Linked DNA regions of Homo sapiens. The protein of the gene in region 2 interacts with the protein of the main gene of each other region in a pairwise test. Each region holds a gene or a part of one and is shown on either strand. Other genes may lie near its edges.

Region 1 (7,105 bases), about 22 Mb from region 2:
AGTGAGGTTTTGGTTCACACTGATAATAACATCAATAACGGCTTCCGTGTACTGAGTATGACAACATCATATGCGTTCAGGCTCCGTGCTAAAGGCTTCCCGGCCATTACCCATTACTCTTTAAACTTTGCAACAATACTCTAAGGCCTCAGCAACTATTATCCCCCATTTTCCAGGTAAAGGATGTGGGTGCAGAGAAGTAAAGTCATCTGCCTAAGGTCAAACAGCTAAGGAGCAGGGCAAGGCTTTGAACAGCTCTGCCTGGCTCAGGACTCTTATAGCTTTATGTTCAGTCTCAGCTGTTCAGTGTCTGCTGGTTTTCACCCTAAGGTCCTGTCTATTTGGGCTTCTGTTTGCTTCAAGTTTGTTCAAAGTGGGAATAGCCATCTGAGTAAGGTTTTACTAATTTTTTTTTTTTAGTAGAAAATCGGGCCTTTAAGGGAATGGACATATAAAGGACACTGCTTCAATTAAACAGGTGACTGTTTTCAAAAGCTCAACTGAATTTCTGTCTAAGCAGGAGGATGCCAAGCAAAGAAAAGGTACTGCAAAAACATCCAGCATTAATTCGGAGTCTCTGCCCAGTTCCCGCACTCTGCTCTAATGTGCCCGAAGCCATGTAGACAGCTGGATTTAATCACTGTTCCAATCTCTGATCACCTCCCAGACGTATCCCCTGGGGCTCGCTGTTCCAGAGGAAGCATTTGGCTGTTTGCTTGAGCATCACTCGTTTTTGGAGTACCCTCCTTGAAGGAAGAGCCCCATTGGACTCAGCCCACTCAATTAATAATGGTCCCCAAACTCAATAGTAAGAGAGTCACCCCAGTTAATCATGAAGGTTATGGGTCCTGAATTAATAGAAAACGGCTCTACCAGGGAAACTGCTAATTGGAGCAGGAGCTGAAGGCAGCTGACCTGGAAAATGCTCTTTCCTCCATGACCCATTTAGAACCCCCAGCTGTCCAGGCAGGGCGGGCGTGTGAAGGGGAGGACCCTGTGGATGTATTAAACACCTACTATGTGCCCACATCATGCAAGGAGCTTTCTCTTATGTTATCTCATTTAATGCTCTCAAAAACTCTTTTCAATGAGTACTACTATTCCATTTTTTAAAATAAACAGAAGCCCAGAGATGCAAAGGAAGTGGCTTAAGATCTTGCACCTAGGCTGGGTGCAGTGGCCCATGCCTGTAATCCCAGCACTTTGGGAGGCAGAGGCAGGAGGATCCCTTGAGCCTGGGAGATCAAGGCTGCAGTGAGCCATGATCACTCCACGGCACTCTAGCCTGGGCGACAGAGCGAGACATTGATAAAACAAAACAAAACAAAACAAAACAAAACAAAACAAAACAAAAACACCTTGTGCCTAGAAAGTAGAAGGGTCAAGATTTGCAAAGGGTCCCTTGATCTCCAAAATCCCCTACTTTAAAAGTTGCAATTCCAGGGGATGCAAACTCAAATGCCAAGAGGAACCTGGCAGATAACACAATAGCGTCAGCACTAGTAATAGTAATAATAACTTCCAAGGGGCTTGGAGCAGAGTGCCAGCCTCTATTCTAAGTGATTTACAGTATTCAGCTGTTTAGTCATCAAAGAACCCAATGTGGAGTGCTATTATTATCCCCAATCTGCAGATGCCGTCAAACAACTTCCCCAAGGTCCTGCGGCAATTAATGCCTGAACCAGGATTTGAACTTGGAGAGAATTGGCCAAATGAGAACGTCTGAGAATTACAGAGGGCAAGCTCCAACTACAGAGGGCCATGGTTTCCAATCCAGCTGACTGGTGCTTTGTAAGAATGACAGGCCAATGTGGCAAGATCTGATTTTTCAAGAGAAACCTGAAAGCTGAATGTTTTTGAGAAATCTCTGGATCCTTATATGCTGGTAATTATTAAACAAACTAAAAGCTCCAGGTACCACCTTCTCTCTACCCGCCCCCACCCTTCAATAACTTGTCTACGGGGGCCTGTGGAGGCCTTCGTGTGTGCCTTTTTTTTCTTTATGGGCTTTGCTTGGGTTCCTAATGCACCTCTGGGACTCCCCTCTCTATTCTTCACTTTCTTTCTCCCTGCCTCACACCCTCAAAGAAAATATTTTCAAGCAATTCACTTTAGATGTTCGGGATTGAGACTAATTCACAGGTGGTTTCCCCAGGGATACATGCATCTTAGCCTATGCAGCTGAGGTGCAAACCTTAGGTGATTCATTGAGAGTGGGAATTTAGGCAGTGTGACAAGGCGCTTTTAGGCTGAGAGGCTGGCCCAGCTATTCCAAACTGGGCCAAGCCTCAGATTGGCCTGCCTGAGTTTCCCAGCTTTCCTTCACCCAAGACAGTGCATCCAGCATCTGGCTGGGGTCAGGAAGAACAAAGTAGGGCATGAAAAGTCTGCAAGCATCCCACAGATCTAGGACTGGCAGCCCTGGTTTATTCAGACACACAGGTGGGAACCCACTGATTAAGGCACGGCCATGTTCTAACCTGTACCACTGGGTGGAGGGAGAGCAAATCCTTTATTAGTATATTATGTGTAGAACATATTTTCTGGGCGTCTAATTCTATTGCTTTCAGGCTTCCATCAGAGTTGAAAAATCACTTCATTTGGACAGTATTTTTAAAGGCAGTGGTCTGCAAGCCAAATGGAGACTTTTCCAAAATACTCATACCCAGACTTAATCTCTGGGGTAAGGCAGAAGCATGTGCATTCTGGTAAGGCACTTCGGGTTATTCTGATGGCTCCAAAGGTGAGGGTCGCTGATCTTTAGGATCTCACAGAAGTCACTGTGAGTATGCCCTGGTCCAACACAAGATGCAAAACAAACAATCCTTCCCCATAAACACACATCCTGCTTTCTTCACAGGTGCCCTGTGCATAAACCGTAGATGTCCAAGCGTGCATGCCCTTTTAGCCATTTGTGTGTGTGTCTGGGGAGAGGAGACAGTGGGATTTTGAGTACATTGAATTTCAGTCTGCTTATCTAGAGAATTCCTTAACCTCAACACGGCGTGGTATTTTTTAGAACAAAAGTTGCACGCTCTTAGTATTAACTAAACACATACAGCAGAGCAGGGCAAGATAGCCTGAGTTGTGCAAAAGACCTCTTGTGCCCTTTCCCATGACTTCCAGCTCTTTGACAAAATCTCTGTGCTTTCTACCTCATTCATTCAATAAGCATTCCCCTGTGCTGGTTCAGAGACTGCAGCCCAGCCAGCAGCAAGACGCAGCTGCAGGCAGCTCTCTACAGCACTTCTGTGCAAATCAGAAAAAAAGCTCTCTCTCCTCCGGGAGGTAGCAGCTCCACATCAGGGTTCTCATATTGGCAAATGGAGTGAAGGGTGGAGTTCAGGCTGTGTTCCCCCCTGGTGGGGTGTTCTTGGGCAAGGTACAGCCCACATGCCTTTATGTGGTGGTCCTGGTCACAGCTTTAAGAGATGCACTTACCCCTTTGCAGATGGCCACAGCTTCCTTGGACATAGACTTGGGATAGGCTACGTTGTGTTCCATGATGGATTGGAAGAGTTCATCTTCATCCTCCCCTTCAAAGGGTGCCTGTATGACAGGGGAGGGTGGGAGGAGAAGAATCCCTGCTTGAACCCTCCCCCTAGCTCCCCTCAACTGGCAGACCCTCCTCCCTGGGGCCCACAGTGAAGCCACACACCCAGGCTTTCAAATGACCACAGACTTGTATGACCCCAAGGCCGGGAAAGTCATAGAGGTTCCAATTTATGAGCTGTTACCAAACATGCATTCTCCTAAAGAAACCATGTGGATGGGGGTAGGGAGGACTTCTCTTATCGATCACTTAAAATTCAATTACCTGCCCAGCCAACATTTCATACAGCAGGACTCCAAATGCCCACCAATCCACGGACTTCCCATAGGGCTGATAAGCAATTATCTAGAAAAGAGAAGGCACCCTATCAGGGAGGTTTGCAGTTCATGTTTCTTCTGGAGACAGATTTCACTCTTCTTTTACAAGAAGGCCAGTGCCCACCTGAACTGTTTCTTTATATTAGCTATTCAGGGAATGACAGACATGCTTTGCAGAGGCACCTGCAGCTGGGCAAACACCTGTGGCTGTCACATTGCCTTTTCGAAGCACTAAGTAAGGTGTATTGTTATTATTATTTTCAAAACAGTGAGCATGGAATTTTTAAAAGGAAAAACTGTCTTTACTCCTCTGTAAAAGTTACAACATTTACACAATAATGTAAATATACTTAACACTACTAAATTGTATACTTAGAACTGGTTAAAATAGTAAATTTTACGTTACATGTTTTTAAAACATAATTAAACATAAAAACGTTTAAGAGATAACAACATTTGTCACTATTTTAATATTTCTTTATAAAAGATAGCTCAGCTGAGATAATAACATGAAAATCACCCATAATCCTTTATTAAGAGAAAAATTATGACTAATATTTGGTCTACTTCATTCCATACTCTTTTCTCTGAATACATATTAAACTCTGTGTGTATGTGTGTGCTTTACATAAACACTTTAGTATTTGGACGATTTTTTTTCTTTTTTTCTTTTCTTTTTTTTTTGAGATAGTGTCTCTTTTTGTCACCCAGGCTGGAGTGCAGTGGTGAGATCATAGCTCACAGCTCACAGCCTTGGCCTCCTGGGCTCAAGCAATCCTCGCACCTCAGCCTCCTGTGTAGTTGGGACTACAGGTGCTCACCACCATGCTAATTATTTAATTTTTTGTAGGGATGGGGTCTCTCTATATTGCCCAGACTGATCTCAAACTCAAGCAAAGCTCCCATCTTGGCCTCCCAAAGCACTGGGATTATGGGCAATAGATCTTTAATAAAGCCAGTTATTCACTTAAGTTTTCCTTGCTAATTTAATATTTGTATATGAACATAATCAATTTTTATCTGTGCATAGCATTCCGTTGAATGGATATACCAAAATCTATCTTATAAATTTCCAGTTGATTAGGTTTCTTCCAATGCTGTAACATATATTCTTGTAATTAGACATTTGGACATCTGTCCAAGTATTTCCTTAAGATAAACTCCTAGATGTAGAATTGGTGTATCATATGGTATATATGGTTGTGAAGTTTTTAATTCATATTCCCAAACTGCAAGAACATGGAAAAGTCTAGAAGAGCTATGTGATTGTCCATCTTTCAGTATGCAGGGATGTAAAACTAACCATGTCAGAGGTTAAGAGGTAATACAGCAAAGGCTAAAGGCTGAGGTCTGAGGGTTAGGCAGTCTGACTTTGAATCCTGACTGCTGTCTACCGGTTGGCTGTCTGACCACAGGAGAAGTTACTTAACTTCTATAATCTCTATATCATGAAGTTATGTGAGGATGAATGAGATACTCGGTGGCTTTCACATATTATGCCCTCAAAATGTTAACTAATCCTAGAATGTTTTATAATTCAGTTATTGCTTGTTTAACTCAAAAAGGGTATTTGAGCAAACTTGGCTATAAAGTGAATGTTTGTTTCTTGATCTCTATCTCCCACTTTGATTTCTATTCCAAAATCAGAAATGCAGAGATGTTGATTACAGGATACAAAATTTCAGTTAAGTAGCAGGAATAAATTCAAGAGACTTATCGTGTAACACAGTAACCATAGTTAATAACAATCTATTGTATTCTTGAAAATTGCTAAGAGGGATTTTTAAGTGTTTTTACCATAAAAAAATAAGTATGTGAGACAATAAATATGTTAATTAACTCAACTTAGCCATTCCACAATGTATGCATATTTCAGAACAACATGTTGCACATGATAAATGTATACAATTTTACTGGTCAATTATGAATGAATGAAATGCATTCTGAGAAGTAACCCTCAAGACAAGGAAGGGAAAGCATTCCAGGAGAACACTTCTCATTGAACGTGTTTTCCACTTTGGGAGGCCGAGGCGGGCGGATCACGAGGTCAGGAGATCGCGACCATCCTGGCTAACACGGTGAAACCCCGTCTCTACTAAAAAAATACAAAAAAAATTAGCTGGGCGTGGTGATGGGCACCTGTAGTCCCAGCTACTCGGGAGGCTGAGGCAGGAGAATGGCATGAATCCAGGAGGCAGAGCTTGCAGTGAGTAGACAGAGTGAGACCCTGTCTCAAACACACACACACACACACACACACACACAAGAAACAATGTGGGATGCCCAAGCATCATCCCATTAGAATCTCTGCAGGTGGAGGCCCAGGATCTGTGGTTCTCAGAAGTTCCTCGCTGGTCGTGATTCAGGCAAGCACAAGAAACCCTCAACTGTGTGGCTGGTGAAGTTGCCTCCCCTCCAGCCCACAGATGGGAGGGATAAGCAGCAGGTCAGGCTTTGTCATGAGCTAACCACATCACCTTCGGCAACTGCTGTCACATCCCAGGCTCTAGTTTCCTTTGTAAAAGGATTAACTTGTTGGCTTGTCATGAGGATCAAATAAGACTTGAAGTACTTTAAAAGTGTGGAAACACTTTCTTTCTTTCTTTCTTTCTTTTTTTGAGACAGAGTCTCGCTCAGTCGCCCAGGGTGGGGTGCAGTGGCATGATCACTGCTTACTGCAGCCTCTACCTGCTGGGCTCAAGTGATCCTCCCACCTTAGCCTCCTGAGTAGTCAGGACAGCAGGGGTGACCTAGTGCACCTGGCGAATTTTTAATTTTTTTTGTAGAGATTAGGGTCTCACTATGTTGTCCAGTCTGGTCTCAAACTTCTACCCTCAAGCGATCTTCTTGCCTCAGGCTCCCAAAGTGCTGAGATTACAGGAGTGAGCCACCATGCCCCAGCTGCATCCTACATTGTAAAAGCTCCCTCACGACTCTAAACTGCAGTTAGAGTTGAGAACCAGAGATTATGGAACCCCTGGCCTATCAGGAAGTTGTGTTATGGATTGTGTCCTATCTAATTAATTAACAAAATGATAATAGACCAAAGCATATCACATAGGGAAAACTTCACTGGGTCCGAGTAAAGCCTTATTATTTTTAAAGAATTACTTTATTACTCAAGTAATACCCAAATACATTTACCTTGTAAAAAATGTCAGCAGTATACAGAAATAGCTAAATTTCTCTTTACAATTCCCTTATCCTCAGAGGTAACCAGTGTTATAAAATCAGT
Region 2 (7,293 bases):
ATGAATCTTCATCTTGGAACAAACCTAAAAAAAAAAAGCAAAAATAAGCAAGCTCCAGTGCCTTATTTGAATGCTTCTATTTTCATATCCTTGCATAGAAATCCCAAACAAAATACAAACAAGAATTTGAATATGAATAGTCTACTTACCTCTACCATTGTGAGAAGAAACTAGTTTTCCAAACTTAAAAATATTTCAAAATCCAAATTCTACTTCAAAACAATAAGCGCTTAAGATCTTTCACAGTTAGATTTTTGTTGTTGTTCTGTGAGGTTTTGGGGAGAAGTAGAAGGCTGTTTTTGTTTTTGTTTTAGAAACGGTCTCACTCTGTCACCTAGGCTGGAGTGCAGTGGTGCGATCATAGCTCACCGCAACCTCAAACTCCTGGACTCAAGCTACCCTCCTGTCTCAGCCTCCTGAGTAACTAGGACTACAGACATGCACCACCACATCCAGCTGGAAGACAGTTGATTTTTAATTCAGTGGAAATCACTCAAGATCTCCTACAAAGCATACAGCCTGTGATTTATACTACAGTTAGCCAGTGATAATAATCAAGTATCTTAGTTATTTATTTTCCAAAGCAATTCCATAAAGCTCCTTTAAGAAAGGGAGCTGACTTCCTCTCAGATGGGTTAAGCCCTCCCTTTATTTCCTACAATATCAGTCTGTCAATCGCCCCTCAATAAACAGGGACGAGAGTCTTAATAATCCATAAGGTTTACTTCAGTAAGGTTATTAGATTCCTCCTCACTAATTTCAATGACTGTGTCTAAGGAAAAGATCAGAAAATGCAAATCACATTAGGTTTGGGCTGTATATAATGTTTCATAAGGTATGATTCAGCCAGTGGCATATCTAATTCTATGTAATGTTTTTAATAAATGAAACAACTACTAAATAAGCAATGCTAAAAAGGGTAGCATTTAGAATGTAGAGTAGTCTCCAGAAGTGGTTTCAGGGAAGGTATCTGAGCTGTTAGCAGATACCTTTTTTCTCCCTCCCCCTTGATTTTCTCCTTCCCTTTCCCCCTTCCTTCCATTTCTTTGTCCCTGTTCAGGCCACCAGAAGTACTTGACCCACAGATGACCAAAGTGTACTCAAGGGTCTACTGCTCACAAACACTGATGCACATGAACCTTAGAAGGCATCAGTACCTTACTGGTTATGTGACAATGCCTCAGCTTCCTCACCTATAAAGGGAAGATAATAGTACATCCACTTCAATTAAGAAGATTAATTGTTAATAATTTACAACAGTGCCTATTACATAATGTATATGTTTGTTAAAGAAATAGTAGTACTTCAGCACCATTCTTTTTTTTTCCAGCACCATTCTTTATAGCTTTATGGAGGTATAATTAACATATAGAAGTTATATACATTTAAAGTGTATAACCTGATGGCCAGGCACGGTGGCTCACACCTGTAATCTCAGCACTTTGGGAGGCCGAGATGGGCGGATCACCTGAGGTTAGGAGCTCGACACCAGCCTGGCCAACAGGGTGAAACCCCGTCTCTACTAAAAATACAAAAATTAGCTGGGTGTGGTGGCGGGCGCCTATAATCCCAGCTACTTGGGAGGCTGAGGCAGGAGAATCATTTGAACCCGGGAGGCAGAGGTTGCAGTGAGCTGACATTGTGTGCCACTGCACTCCAGCCTGGGCAACAGAGTGAGACTCTGCCTCAAAAAAAATAAAATAAAATAAAAAATAAAGTGTGTAACATGATGTTTTGATATACCTATACATTATGAAATGATTACCACAGTAAAGTGAATTAATATTTCCATCACCTCGCATAGTTACCTTTTGTGTGTGTGTGGTGTGAACACTTATGATCTACTCTGTTAGCAAATTTCAAGTACAAAATTTGTGTCGCATTGCACCATCACGTCATTGCCTATTAATACTGTAATAATAATACAGTATTATTAACTATAGTCACCATGCTGTATGTACATCAGATCCCCAGAACTATTCACACTGCATAACTGAAACTTTGGACCCTTTGCCCAGCATCTCCCCATTCCCCCAACCCACTGGCAACTACCACTCTACTCTCTTTCTGAAACTTCCTCTTTTTTAGATTCCCAATATAAGCGATGCCATGCAGTATTTATTTTTGCAGCCACTTTAAAAACTTTATTTCACTTCAACTTCACCACAAGTACAACCATTGGCATAGTCTTCCAGATGGGAAAACTGAAGCCAAGTGACTTTTGCCAGTTGGATAGGTGGGTTAATAGTGGAATTGTCACACTTATGTTTTCTCACTTTGTTGGGACTCTCTGCTACACAATACAACCGAAAGTGTTAACGTAAAAACATGAACCAGCTTAAAATATCAGAAAAAAAAAATAGTAATGAAACTCTATGAGGAGGAAGAAAGGGCAGAGAACTAGAAGACCCCGGTTCTATTTCTGGACTCCGGCCCAAGTTGGCGCTCCTCACTTTGGACACGTCACTACCCTCCGTGCACAGGACAGCCATCTAAGCCAAGGGTTCAAGCTTTTCTCTTCTTCGGAAAAGGGAAGTGTGGTTCGTGATCTCCTTTGAGATGCAGATGAAAAAATGGCCCCTTGAGCAACAGTAAATGCACAGTTCCCGCAAAACCCATCCAGATAGGGAATTCCTGGCCCAATCCAGCTCCCTCCAACCTCGGGGCGGGCGGAGGCCAGAGAGTGCAGGGAGAGTGGGAGATGCGGATAGGGAAGAGAGGGAGTCCCCCACCCCTGGGTACCGCCCGACTTTGAGGTCCCGTCACTGGGTCCCGGCCGCGCACCGCCGTTCCCGCCACCCTGGACAGACGGGTCCGGAAGGCCCGCGACCCAGGCGCCCTCCTAGGGTCCCGACGCCCCAGGCCTCCGCTCAGAGGCGGCTCCTCGGCCCCGGCATGGAGAGCTCACCTTTCTCCAGAGACGCCAGCTCCTGCTCCACCGCCCAGCCCATGCGCTCCGGCGCCATGGCCGCTGCCTCCAGACCGCCGCCCGTCAGCGACCCGTCAGCCATTTCAAATTTCCGCGGACGGCAGCCCAGGCAACGACGTGATGACGCAGGCTCTGCTGATTTGATAGTCGGGCCGAGGCCGTGGACCAATTAGAGTCCGGCCCCGCTCCAGCCCCCACCAACACTGCCCCCTCGCCCCAGGCTGACAGCTGTTCTTGTTCAAGTGCCCGGCCTTTGCTTTTCTGGGATGAACTTGAAGAAAGTCGAATTGGAATATAATTTGGAATGATTTTCGAAAAAAACGAACCAGCAATGCCTGGAAATGAGATATAGTGGAAAAGTCACTGGGTTGAGAGTCAAAAAACATAGTATTTAAACTTACCTGGGCTATTCCTAGTGGTATTGCCTTGGGCAAGTCATTTCACCTCCCACAAGCACAACTTCAACTGAAAAGGATGCTGGCCTACGTGGGCCCAAAACTTTCACCACCAAACACCAGTCTCTCTCTGTCTTTCAATACACACACACACACACACACACACACAGAGAGAGAGAGAGAGAGAGAGAGCATATTTTCAAAGAATGTCAAATTAAATTTAGTAAGTAAATTTGTTAATTTGCATTAATCAAAGACAACTATAATCTCCATCATAATGGCTAACATTTACTGCATATTGTGTGCAAGATACCCTCCTGCATGCGTTACCTGGATTGTTCTGTTTAATCTTCACAATGATCCTATGAGACGGGAGCTATTACTATACCCATTTTACAAATGAGCAAATGGAGTCACTAAGAAGTTAAGTCACTTCTCCAATCTAACCCAGCAAAGCCAGGATGTGAAACCAGCCAGACTCCATGAAGAAGCCTTTTAATGTCTCTGCCAGGCCATCACTACTAGAATGATGAGGTCAGCCCAAGATAGCCCAGGTAACCAGGACACCAAGTGGGATGCGTCCACAGGGGACCAAGAGCCTGGTCATGACAGTTCGTCTGTGCAGTCTTAATGTGGGGAAACATTTCCACTTATTGCTTTGAAGAAACACCTTGGGCTAAAGTCTCTCGGATCCCTTACAGCTGAAATAAAATGGAGCCAGGAGGGGTGACTGGAAAGCTGCACTTAATTGGGCTAACTTTTCCAGGAAGTAAGATTTCTTTGACTTTTGTTTGCAGAATCTGACCTTACATTTATTTGCTCACTGAACAAATACATATTGAGCACCATGAGGTAAAAACACAGAAAACAATAATCAAGACTATCAACAGGCCTTGAGGATGACGCTAGCTTTTTCATTATTCTCTTCTTCAACCTTGCCGCCCACAAACCTCACAAATGGCAGCATTTCTCCTCACCCATTTGCAGCATCACTGGAGACAACACAGTTCTCTTCTCATCCAATTATCAAATATTTCATCAACCATCAAGATATTACTCAAACCAGGCTAGGCATAGTGGCTCATGCCTGTAATCCCACCACTTTAGGAGACCGAGGCAGGCGGATCACTTGAGTCCAAGAGTTTGAGACCAGCCTAGGCAACATGGTGAAACCCCATCTCTACAAAATTTTTTTTTTTTTTTTGTTATAGAAATCTGTTTAATGGTTTAGGAATGTGTACACTCTGGCTCTGCCAAGTTTCCATAAAGGCAACTTTTCCATGTTTTAAAAAATAGATTTGGTATAAAGATTTGTATATTCATAAATAGGTGGCATGAAAAATTACCAAATGCAAATGGAATACTTGCGCTGACTGAAGCCCTGTTCACCCCAAGTCCAGGCCCTGCAGGGGTCCGAGGGTCTCTGCTGGAGGAGGCCCCAACTCCGGCAGCCTCTTAGGGAAGAGAAACTGAATTAAATGTGTATTAGGAACCCCTCCAGCTCCTTAAGCCAGCGTCGCACTGGCCCCACCGAGGCCTCAGCCCACCTCCCTCTGCTTCCCCCCGCCACCTCCACCATTGCCCCCTCCCCTGCACTCTGGCCCCTGACCCCACCTGCTCCCACTCTTTGGCAATTTATCAACAAAGGAAGAGATGACACTGTTCTCCTTCCGCCCCAGAGCCCGGGCTGCCGGGAGAGCTTAGCCTGCCAAGGGGAGGAAACAAGCCGGCTTTGTTTTGTCTCACACACTTCCCCATCTTCTCTCCCAGCCCAGTTTTAAGGGCCGGAAGGGCAGTGGGGCCCCCTCCTGGTGGGATACAGCAGGGCAGGAGCCCCTGCAACCCCAGGTACAGGTCTTGAGTCCCTGGACACCGGCTTTTGTGCCTGAGAGGGGGTGGGAACGCTTCTCTGTAGGAAATGGCTTCAGTCCAGGATCCAGGGGTAGGGGAACCTCGACCATGGGGTGGGTTGCTCCTGCCAGGGGGTACTAGGGGCAAGGCCCCAGGGTGGAGCCAGTTCTGGGAGCTGTGTCCAGCTAGGCATCTGTGACCCCAAATGGCATGAATAAAAGGGCAGGTTGCTAAGAGCCAGGGGAGGGCATGGGGCAGGGAGACCAGGTTGGCCCAGACAGGACAGAGGTGCTCCAGGGACAGGGTGCTGGAGTGAAGCCAGGTGGAGCGGTGGAGCTGTGGAGCCTTTGAAACATCCTGAGGGCCCAGGCCTGCCACAGGGTGACCTGGGCAGAGGAGAAGCCCAGAGGACAGCAAGGTGCCCAAATGAGGTCAGGGCTTCTGGGGTGGAGGGACGGGGGGGCACAGTGGCGGCGGGGGAAGGAACGTTGAGTCCCAGGTGAGCCTGCCTTTCCAGGCCAAGCCCTTGGAGTGAGGGTGCTCCTGCCTGGGGGGCGAGAAGTGGAAGTGGCTCACAGTCCAAGGTGACAAATGAACCCATCACCGGTCAGCTACCATCCCTGTGAAGGAGCCAGGGTGGAAGGCCCTGTCCATGTCCTCCCTCCCTCCCTAAGCCCTGAGGAAGGTAACAGCCCCACCTGTGAGGCCCCAGCCTGGAAGCAGAGTAGGAGAGCCGGGCTTCTTAGAGGTGGGCAGTGGGTGGTGGTGGGCAGTACTGGTAAGTATGCTTGGGTGGCTGGGACTTGCCCTGGAACTGGGGCTGAAATTCAAACGGGGAGGCCCAGGCCTTTGTTCCCAAGACCCTGTGAATGCTCCCTGTTCCCCCAAAAACAGAGGGGCTCTGCAAGGACAGGCTTCATGGGATTTCTCTTTCAGAGTGGGCCTGCAGTGAAAGACCAGCTCAGCCCCTTCTGACCATGTGACCCCAGAAACTTCAGCCCCAGCAGAAAGGTTGTGAGGCTGGAGGAAGGCACTGCCCACGGCACATCCAGTCCCAGCGGGGTCTGGGGGCACCCCTCAGTGCCAGGCACTGTCTGCCCTGCAAGGGGAGCCCAGGCACTGCAGTGGAGGCGCAGGGGCAGAGCCCAGACCCCACTCAGCTCCACTCTCACCCCTGCCACAAGCAAAGCTGCTGAGAAAGGGAGCCAGGCAGCCTCGCCTCTGGTGCCCCCCAATCTGATGCACCCAGACTCCCCTCAATGCAGGTGCCAGCCCCTCAGCTCCTGGCAGCCTTCCTCCCCTGCAGAACCAGGCTCAGCCATTCCACAGGTAGCCTCCCTGCCCAAAAGGAAGCCTGGCAGGTGAGATGCTGGCTCCACCACCAGCATCAAGCCCTGCTTGTCTCAGTCTCAGCAGAGGAAGCCCTGTCCAGGCCCCAACCCTGCCTCTTGGGTCACCGTGGCACTGCTGTAAGGCCTGCTCTTGCCCTATGGCCAGGCCTGCCTGGAAAGTGCTTAGTGCAGAGGGCAGGGAGGCATGGGGGAGGCCTCTCACTGGCCCAGGGACTGCACTGAGCCATGCCTGGCCTGGCCCTGGGAGCTAGACCACAAACCGACGCAGCCCTGCTCGTGGGTCCAAGAGCTGCTTACTTCTGGGGGCACCCATGCTGAGGGGGCTGCGAGGCAGAGCTGGGCTGACACAGACGGACTGGGATTGGCTAAGGAAGATCACTTGGCCCCTCCAGCCCTAGCCCTGGCTCTTTTGTCACTGTGATACCTCTGAGCCACATGCCCAGAGGACAATGCTGCTTCCCACATCCCCCTACCCCACTTTTGCCTTCTAACCTTGGTGCCCAGCTCAGGGTGAGGCAGTTAAGGGTCCAGGGAATAAAATGGGCCAGGCCAAGGACCGCCAGGGCCTCTCCTTTTTTGTCTGGGAGACTCGATTCCATAAACTAGACTGGGACCCACGCTCGGCTGGCAGGATTCCTGCTTGTGGGGTAAGGCTGGGTGCCTTGCGGTGCCCTCTCATCCCTGAGCCTCAAGGATGCAAGCTTCTACTTGGACCTTAAATGTCCACTTTCTCATCTCATTCCCCCACCTGCCAGACTTCTGAGTG
Region 3 (7,721 bases), on a different chromosome or scaffold from region 2:
TATCTTAGACAGACTCATATTCAACTTCCTTTAGGTTAACCTGTGTAAACAGGATTATGTAGTGTGAATATATTTTGCATTTAATTCAGGATTTAGGAAAGCGTATTTATTTTTAAAATAAATAAAAACAGAATGTTAACAACATGCTGGCATATACTATTTATTTTGCAGTCACTTACTGTAAGTGCTGTCCTCATCTTTGGTGCCATCAATGGTTCCATCCGCCTGCAGCTGCAAGTGGTAGCCTTGTCGGCTGTATAGCTTGGTAACTATACCCTTAAGCTGAGGCTCTGCAAAGAGAACAATGATTTGGATCAATTGATAAATTGTGCCTATGTAGTTGAAAAGACTAGGAATTTCAATTTCTAATTTCATTTACAAATCTTAATGGAAAAAGTCAAACTACACTTTTAAGGTGTCTGGAAGAAAGAAAACAAACTCTGAGTTTCAGAATAAATTTTCAAACTAAAGAAACATTTTATTTCTATCTGGAAACATTGGTAAAGCTTCTGAAAGTGTCTATAGTTTCTGATAACCTGTCCTTTGGTTTACAGAGTGGAACTCTATCTCACTGAGTATTTGTAATGGGTTGGCAAATGGCTATTCTGCCTTTTGAAATTGTGCTACTTTTCATGTGAAAGGAAAAGGAGAAATAGAAAGATAATTCAGAGTTGTCTGCCAACCGACCAAGGACCAAAAACCCACTAGCAAAGATTTCCTTCAGAATGACCACAATTTGAATAAATAATCTCCTTTATTCTAAGAAGGTAGAAAATGCATAAATAACGTGGAACCCCATTAAGGAAACTGTATTTGGAAAATTGAGCCTTTTATACCAAAAAAGGGAGGAGGGAGATACAACCACCATTAACAAATCTTGTCATATTAATTATCATTAGTGAAAATGTGTGTGAAAAGAGCAGGGTTTTTGTTGGTAGGAAGGAAAAAATCAGTGCATACTAATTTTTCAAATTTCATATCAGAAGTATGATTATCAAAAATATGAGTTCTTAATTAAAATGATTTTCAATTATGAATAACCATAGATCAATCAAGTGTCTCATTTACCAATAACAGCCATGTTATCCAAAATTTTCTTTTACTGAATATAGACTCCTGCGCTGAAATAATATTTATGTGATTATTCGAGCCACATAAGCATGCTTTGCAACCACTTAAGCCTTTTTGAAACAAGCCTAATTTACAGTTAATGCATTAAAAACTTTGTGCAAACAGAAAACGTTATGTCTGCTTTTCCATCCCAGGGTGTAGCACACATAAATGGAGAAATAACAGATCGGTGACTCTTATTTTTTTTGTAATATTTATCTAGTAAAAGGCAGAAAAGAGTGTAAAAGATTCATTTGGTTAAGAATGGCAAATAAACTGCATGCTCGCCTGAAGGTCTGCCTTGACGCAACCTGACACCTAGAGCTGAATTTCCAGTCGCTGGAATATCGCGCTACTCCTACCACTGAAAATGTTCAAAAGCACCACAGTCTGGGTATGAGCTTAAATCCCCTCTTCAACACCGCATTTTAGTAGCATGTAACCGATTACACTAAGTCTAACCAAATCTCTCAGCTCTTTGCAACAAGGTTCTAGAAATCCCCCCTCCCCCCGCCCCAGCAAACATTTCGAAGCTGCACCACAAGTCAAGTCTGTCCCAAAAAGCTTAAAAGTCATCAAAGAAACGCAATGCCTAGACAGCAGAAGCCCACATCCCTTGGAGGTGGAAGCTGGAGGGGAAGGGTCTGAGGCAGAGATAAAAGCAAGAGAGGGATTCCCCAGGCTCTCCTGGGGACGGGAGGATGGTGTCTGCCCAGCTCTGCGCCTGCAATTTCCACGCCATACATATCACAGCCATGTCTGGGTCACGCCTGCCCAGAGCCCACCGGGCATGCACATATGTGACATGTCCGAAGCTGAGGGCAAGCCACCCAGGGCAGAGTATGCCCCCAGGCTCTGCGCCTGTCCCAGGGCAGTTGCAATGCAGCAAGCGTGTTACTGTTACGGAGGCAAGAAAGCCAGCGCCTTCCCACGCACGCACACAGGCTAGGTGGCCTCTTCTGCACAAGATGGGCCACCAACAAACTCACCTATGCTACATACCTGCTCCCCACCGCCCCCACCTCACTCGTAAAGTATGGGGAAAAGAAAGCAAAAGCCCTTTCCGACCTGGTCTTCTTCTGCGCCTCTTCTTGGAGCCGAAGAGTTTGACCCGGGAAAAGACATTTAACTTGTTTTTGTCGCAGCTGGTCTTGCCTTTGCTGGGGCTGCTGACACACTTGCAGGCGTTGGATTTCTCGCGCTCGCGGGCTTGCCTCTTCTGACGGATGAGCGAGCTGGCGATAGCCGCCGCCATGGCCACGACGCCCACCACCACCGCTTCTTTTGCTGCCCCTCTCTGGGTTCGCCTCCTCCTCCTTCTCCTCCGCTGCTTGTCCGCTGTCTCGCGACTTCGCCGCTTTGGTCTCCTTAGCCTGCGTTTGCCCGGGCTTCTCCGCACTCGGGCTTCAGCCAAGGAGGGGGCTCAGCATGCCGTCCGAGCTCCTCCGGCGGCGGTCCGGCTCCCGCGCGGGCTGCTGGCTGCCTGGGTCGGAGTCGACGCCACAGCCCCGGGCCCGGGATCGCGGGCGAGACTGGCACGCGGATGCTGAACTGCGCGACTGCGTGTGGTCGGCCCCTGCGCCCGGCGGACACCGTGCATGTCCAGCTGCTCCGGTCCGAATTTCGCCGGACCCCCTCGCCCTGTTGCCCTTCTGATGGGGGCCAGAGGAGGGAGGCGGGCGGAGGGAGTGAGCGCGGGCGGGAGAGAGGCCGGGAGCTCGGGCGGCCGGACGGAGGAGGGACGAGGCAGCGCGCGGGGGAGCGCGCCCTCGCCCTGGCCCCTCCGAGTCTTCGACTAGTCCTTGCAACTTCTTGGCGTGATAATCGGGAAAAGTTGGCCCGTGCCAGGTTTCCGACAGGGATCAAACAGGTAATGGCCTCGCATCTTCGCTGTTGCTGCTGCTCTGGGCGCGGCACAGTCGCAGCACAGGAATTCAGCCGCCGCAGGCACCCTCCGGAACAGCGCGACAGCCTCCTTGCAGCCCCCTCCCGCGACGGCCCCTCCCTCCCGGGGCTGAGCCCGTAGGCTCGGAGCCGCAGGCCGCCCCTCCCACCCCCACCCCCACCCCCACCCCCCCAAGTCCCCGGCCGCCCGTTCCGGCTAACACCTGTAGGGGCTTCCGCACTGCCCCAGTCGTCCAAATCCTTCTCCCCTCCTTTTCCCGAAAGGAGCTTCGGGAGGAAACAGTGATGGAGGAGGAACTGAGATGAGGTAGTTGGGCTGACGGAGCGGGGGTTTGCTCGGCATTGGGGGATGGAGTGGTGGGGGTGTTTCCTCAGTGTTTGAGCTGACCAGATTGTGCTCGGGCTGGAGCCCCTCAGAAGTTCGCCAGATCCCTGCCTCAGGCTTGGACGCACCAACAACCCGGAGAACCCTCACCCACCCGCGCAGAGGTATTTTGCTTGGCGACACTTGTAGCCATTCAGGGGAGGAGGCCAGAGTCCCCAGACGGGTTCAGCCCCAGCGGTAGCAGCAGAAGCAGACACTGCAGAGCTGCGCCCGCACACCACGCTGCCACCCAGTGGTTTTTGCTGACTTTTCATTTCAAGCCAATTTGTAGGGTCCAAAACCTGTTTTTCCTCTGCGCCCCCTCATCTGTCCGCTCAGATTTGGGATTCAAGCAGAGAGCTTGGGTCGTGTACCGTAAGCATTACGTATTTGGGAAATGCAGAGTCGAACCTCTCTATTTAAGCTGTGGCCCATCTCTAATCTCCTAACTTATTTTTTTCTGCTCCTCCAAAGTCAGGCAGCCTCCTTCCCTCCAATTCAGGAACCAGTCTGGCTTTTTGCTGGCCTCAGTCTATTAACAAGTTCTGTCCTCTCCCTGTGTTATATTTTATTCTGGAGGAAAAGAAAGAAGAGGTTTTGAGGCCAGAAATGCAGCAAAGAGAAATGGCCTGTCTACATCCCTACCTTCAAACAGACACAATTATTTGACTATTTTACTTGATTTCTGAGGCCAACTAGGAAGCAAAATAGAGCAGCTCTACTACCTGGCAGCCCTACACCGTCTTTACTGGACTCCTACATGGCACCCCCATCACCTCTTTTCAGAACTAATGTAGATGCAAAACCAGATGCTCAGCTTATCTTCAGACTCTAGCCCTTTTTTCCTTGCCTGACTACCCAACAAACAAGCTCGGACTCAGCAACACTGAAATGCTTTCAGGCTTCTTAGCCCATAAGAGCTGAATCACCGGACCCTTCTGTAGATTCCATTGCTTCACAGGGGAAGCTGTTGCTACCCCTCCTTCCACTTCTCTGCAATCTTGAAATGTCTCTTGCTCCATCAGAAGCACCACTGTGTGTCTGCAAGGCAGACTGGGGTAAAGGTTGCAGTGGGTTGAGACTGATAGTTACAGGAGAATGATGCCAAAGGGTCTGACATTTTCTACCTACTCTTTTGTGCTTTTGGCTTTCCCAAATGAAAAGGGAGGACAAGGTAGACGAGAGTTTTAACACCTCAAGTCTATTCAAGTATCCACTTCTTTAAAATTTGATTCATAGGGAAAAATAAATCCCTGAGGAATGACTGATTGATATTGATTCTGAAGAGTAGGAGGCTATTTCCTAGTTCAAAATGTTTGTGATTGTTGTTTAAATTCCAGATACCATGAAGGGAAATATCTTACATAAAGAGGGGTCAGGAGAAGCTTTGATCAAGCCCAAATATTTGGGGTGGGTGATGAACAGGTACAAGGTCTCTGCTTATTCTCTGCATGTTTTTACCTTCTGCCAAGCACCAACCCCAAGGGCCTTTTGTTCCTACTCTCATTTCTCTCTTGGGATCCTGACCCAGAGCAGGCATGCAAAAGCTAAAGAAGGATGAAGTTCTGATTCAGGAAGGGGATAGACCTTAGAAGAAGAGATGGTATTGAGAAAATCATAAGGGCTTTCCCACACCGTTTTTCCTCCACTTCTCCTCTCAGATAGCTCTCACTGTTTGCTTCTGCAAACACCATTCATAAGGTATTTTCAGGACGCCTGTAGAATTATTGGTGTGGACACTCTGTGGTACATATTAGAGGTAAACAGACTCAGAGAAGACTTCAGGAATATATAATAAGAATGGCGGGGGCATTTATTACAAATTTGCAAACACAAACTGTAAATACATCCTTTTGTTTCTAACTCCTGTCTACCATCCACATAAGCTCATGGAACCACTGGGCCAAGGCTGATAACCAGGTGATTCTACACGTGTTTGTAGATGTCCTTCTTGCTCTAATCCTTCTCTCCCTGATTAAATTGTATAATATTGAAAAATGAAGAGTATGGGGGAGGGGGAACGAGACTCTCCCTCTGTCACATGTTCCTGCCAACCCACAAAAGATATTTCTGTCTTTTTATATCCTGACCCCCTTGAATCTTTTGTTTTCATGAACAGGAAAATGCATGGCACATTATTAATGAGACTTGAGAAGGGGGCATCTCTCTGTGATCTGTCTGTCTACGGACCTCATTCATTCTCCTCTCTCTTCCACAAAGAGAACTCACAAAGGCCTGTGACCAGAGGGTAAATTCAATCTGGGGCAGAAAGTGAAAGAAAACCATTTTGAAATTGGGTCCAAATCATATTGCTCAATGAACTTAACCATTAATAATGCAGATATTGGCCAGGCGTAGTGCCTCACGCCTGTTATCCCAGAATTTTGGGAGGCTGAGGCAAGCAGATCACCTGAGGTCAGGAGTTTGAGACCAGCCTGGCCAACATGGTGAAACCCTGTCTCTACTAAAAATACAAAATTAGCCAGGCATGGTGGCGCCTGCCTGTAGTCCCAGCTTCTTGGGAGCCTGAGGCATGAGAATCGCTTGAACCCGGGAGGCGGAGGTTGCAGTGAGCCAAGATCAGGCCACCACACTCCAGCCTGGGCGATAAGAGCGAAACTCCACACACGCACACACGCGCGCGCACACACACACACACAAAGCAGATATGTTCGCGTTTTCCTAACTCTCATGTCTATTTCCCAGGTGCTTAAAATTTCAGAGACGAATGTGAATATTACTTTCAAATCTCCAACAGGAAACTATGCCAAAGTCACATCCATCTTGAGAAGGTATAATGAAAGAATTGCAGCCAATCCTAGAGAAGCATATTTTGCTTGTCTTTGCTGTCCCACTGCCATCCTGGGCCAATAGTACGACATTTGTGTAGGGGAAGTAATAAAGAATTCTCTTTTGACACCTATTTCCAAATCCCTTTTTCTCCAGTTTTGATTTGTTCCTAGCAGTTCACATTGTGGCCTTGCTATGGAACTTCCTGGATCTCCTCCATATTTGTAAATTTCAGTTATCTCTGCTTATCCCTGGTGGTTCAAACTCTTCTATGCTCTATTCTAAGGTAGGGTCTATTCTCCGTTGTTTCTCCCACGTGTCCGCTCTCCCATTGCATTGTCCACCAACCTCTCTTTTTGACCATGTTCAGAAAGAAAGCATTCTTAGCTTTTTTTTCTAACTCAACTCCCAAAGAGTTCTAGCCTGGCAGGCTGGAAACATATGTTTTAATCCTATCTCTGCCACTAATTGGCTGTGTGACCTTGAGTATGTCATTTCTCCATATTACAGGCCTCAATTTTCCCATCTTTAAAGTAATACTTAGACAAGATTGGCAGTTTTCACTTTGTATTCTTCAGCAATCTAAAAGTAATGAAAAGTAATAAAAGTTCCCTCGCCAATGTTTCAACAGTAGATTTCATCTATTTTAACTGTTTTCATTCAACTGTTTATTTCTCTTTCTCTTTTCATCTGTTTTATATAGTGGAGCTCATTGTATGATTTCTTACGTAAAAAATAAAAATGAAAAGATTCTGGTACTAAAAACAAAACGTTTGGAAACCTCCAGATGACATGTTCCTTAAAGTCCTTTTGGCTCTGGGAGCCTATGATTATTTTTCCCATATGTTCCTGTTCCTACTTCTTTATCTTCCCCTCTTCATACTTCCCATCTCTCTGTTCTCTTCCCACCCCATGAGAACATAAATTCTAAATTGGATTCCAAGGAAAAAATGCAAAAGTCCCTTTGATTCCACTCCTCGTGGGTTCACTTGAGAACTAGGTTTTAGCATTCTTTTCAGAGAGAGTTATGTGAGTTATCTGGGCATAGAATGCTGATCGTTCTCTGCCAATCTCTTTTGGCAGGCCTCAGAGGAGCTGTAAGGAAGCTGAGGGGACCTGCTCTCAAGAGGCATCTCCAGGAGAGAGACAGAAACCCAAACAGATGTGACTGTGATGAGTAAAAATGAGAGAACTCAGACAGCCTAATCGGGAGCAGCCTCAGTCCATTCTGAGCAGAAAGGAATTGGCTGTCTTTCTGAAATTCTGAAAATGAGAAATTTCAAACACCCTTCCTATGTGAAGATAAGCTCACTCAGAATCACTTGCCAGTTTGTTCTCCTTCTACACTAACAGTTCACCAAAATATCTGAGTGGGAAGTTACCTGGTCAAGGACTGATGATGAGCTCAAAGAAAGGAAATGTTGGCAGATTCAAATGCACCAACGTCGAGTAACACTGGGATCTCCCCATTCACTAAGTAAGGCAGCAGAGAGAGTATTTACGAGATGAGGTAGCCAAGTACCACCTTTTGTGGTCTAATTATGTACAAAGG

What was found.
Region 1: the proteins of SHCBP1 (region 2) and PRKCB interact in binary tests that used the Homo sapiens proteins (3 or more experiments, as listed by UniProt).
Region 3: the proteins of SHCBP1 (region 2) and FGF13 interact in a two-hybrid assay, tested with the Homo sapiens proteins (one study listed by BioGRID).

What each region holds. Positions count from the first base shown.
Region 1 is NC_000016.10:24,181,904-24,189,008, reverse strand, and holds part of PRKCB (protein kinase C beta type), read right to left. Parts: intron 3,899-7,105; coding exon 3,818-3,898; intron 3,550-3,817; coding exon 3,442-3,549; intron 1-3,441. UniProt on the Homo sapiens protein: Calcium-activated, phospholipid- and diacylglycerol (DAG)-dependent serine/threonine-protein kinase involved in various cellular processes such as regulation of the B-cell receptor (BCR) signalosome, oxidative stress-induced apoptosis, androgen receptor-dependent transcription regulation, insulin signaling and endothelial cells proliferation.
Region 2 is NC_000016.10:46,618,349-46,625,641, forward strand, and holds the start of SHCBP1 (SHC SH2 domain-binding protein 1), read right to left. Parts: upstream 3,032-7,293; 5' UTR 3,012-3,031; coding exon 2,909-3,011; intron 25-2,908; coding exon 1-24. UniProt on the Homo sapiens protein: May play a role in signaling pathways governing cellular proliferation, cell growth and differentiation. May be a component of a novel signaling pathway downstream of Shc. Acts as a positive regulator of FGF signaling in neural progenitor cells.
Region 3 is NC_000023.11:138,708,639-138,716,359, forward strand, and holds the start of FGF13 (fibroblast growth factor 13), read right to left. Parts: upstream 3,080-7,721; 5' UTR 2,366-3,079; coding exon 2,179-2,365; intron 291-2,178; coding exon 180-290; intron 1-179. UniProt on the Homo sapiens protein: Microtubule-binding protein which directly binds tubulin and is involved in both polymerization and stabilization of microtubules.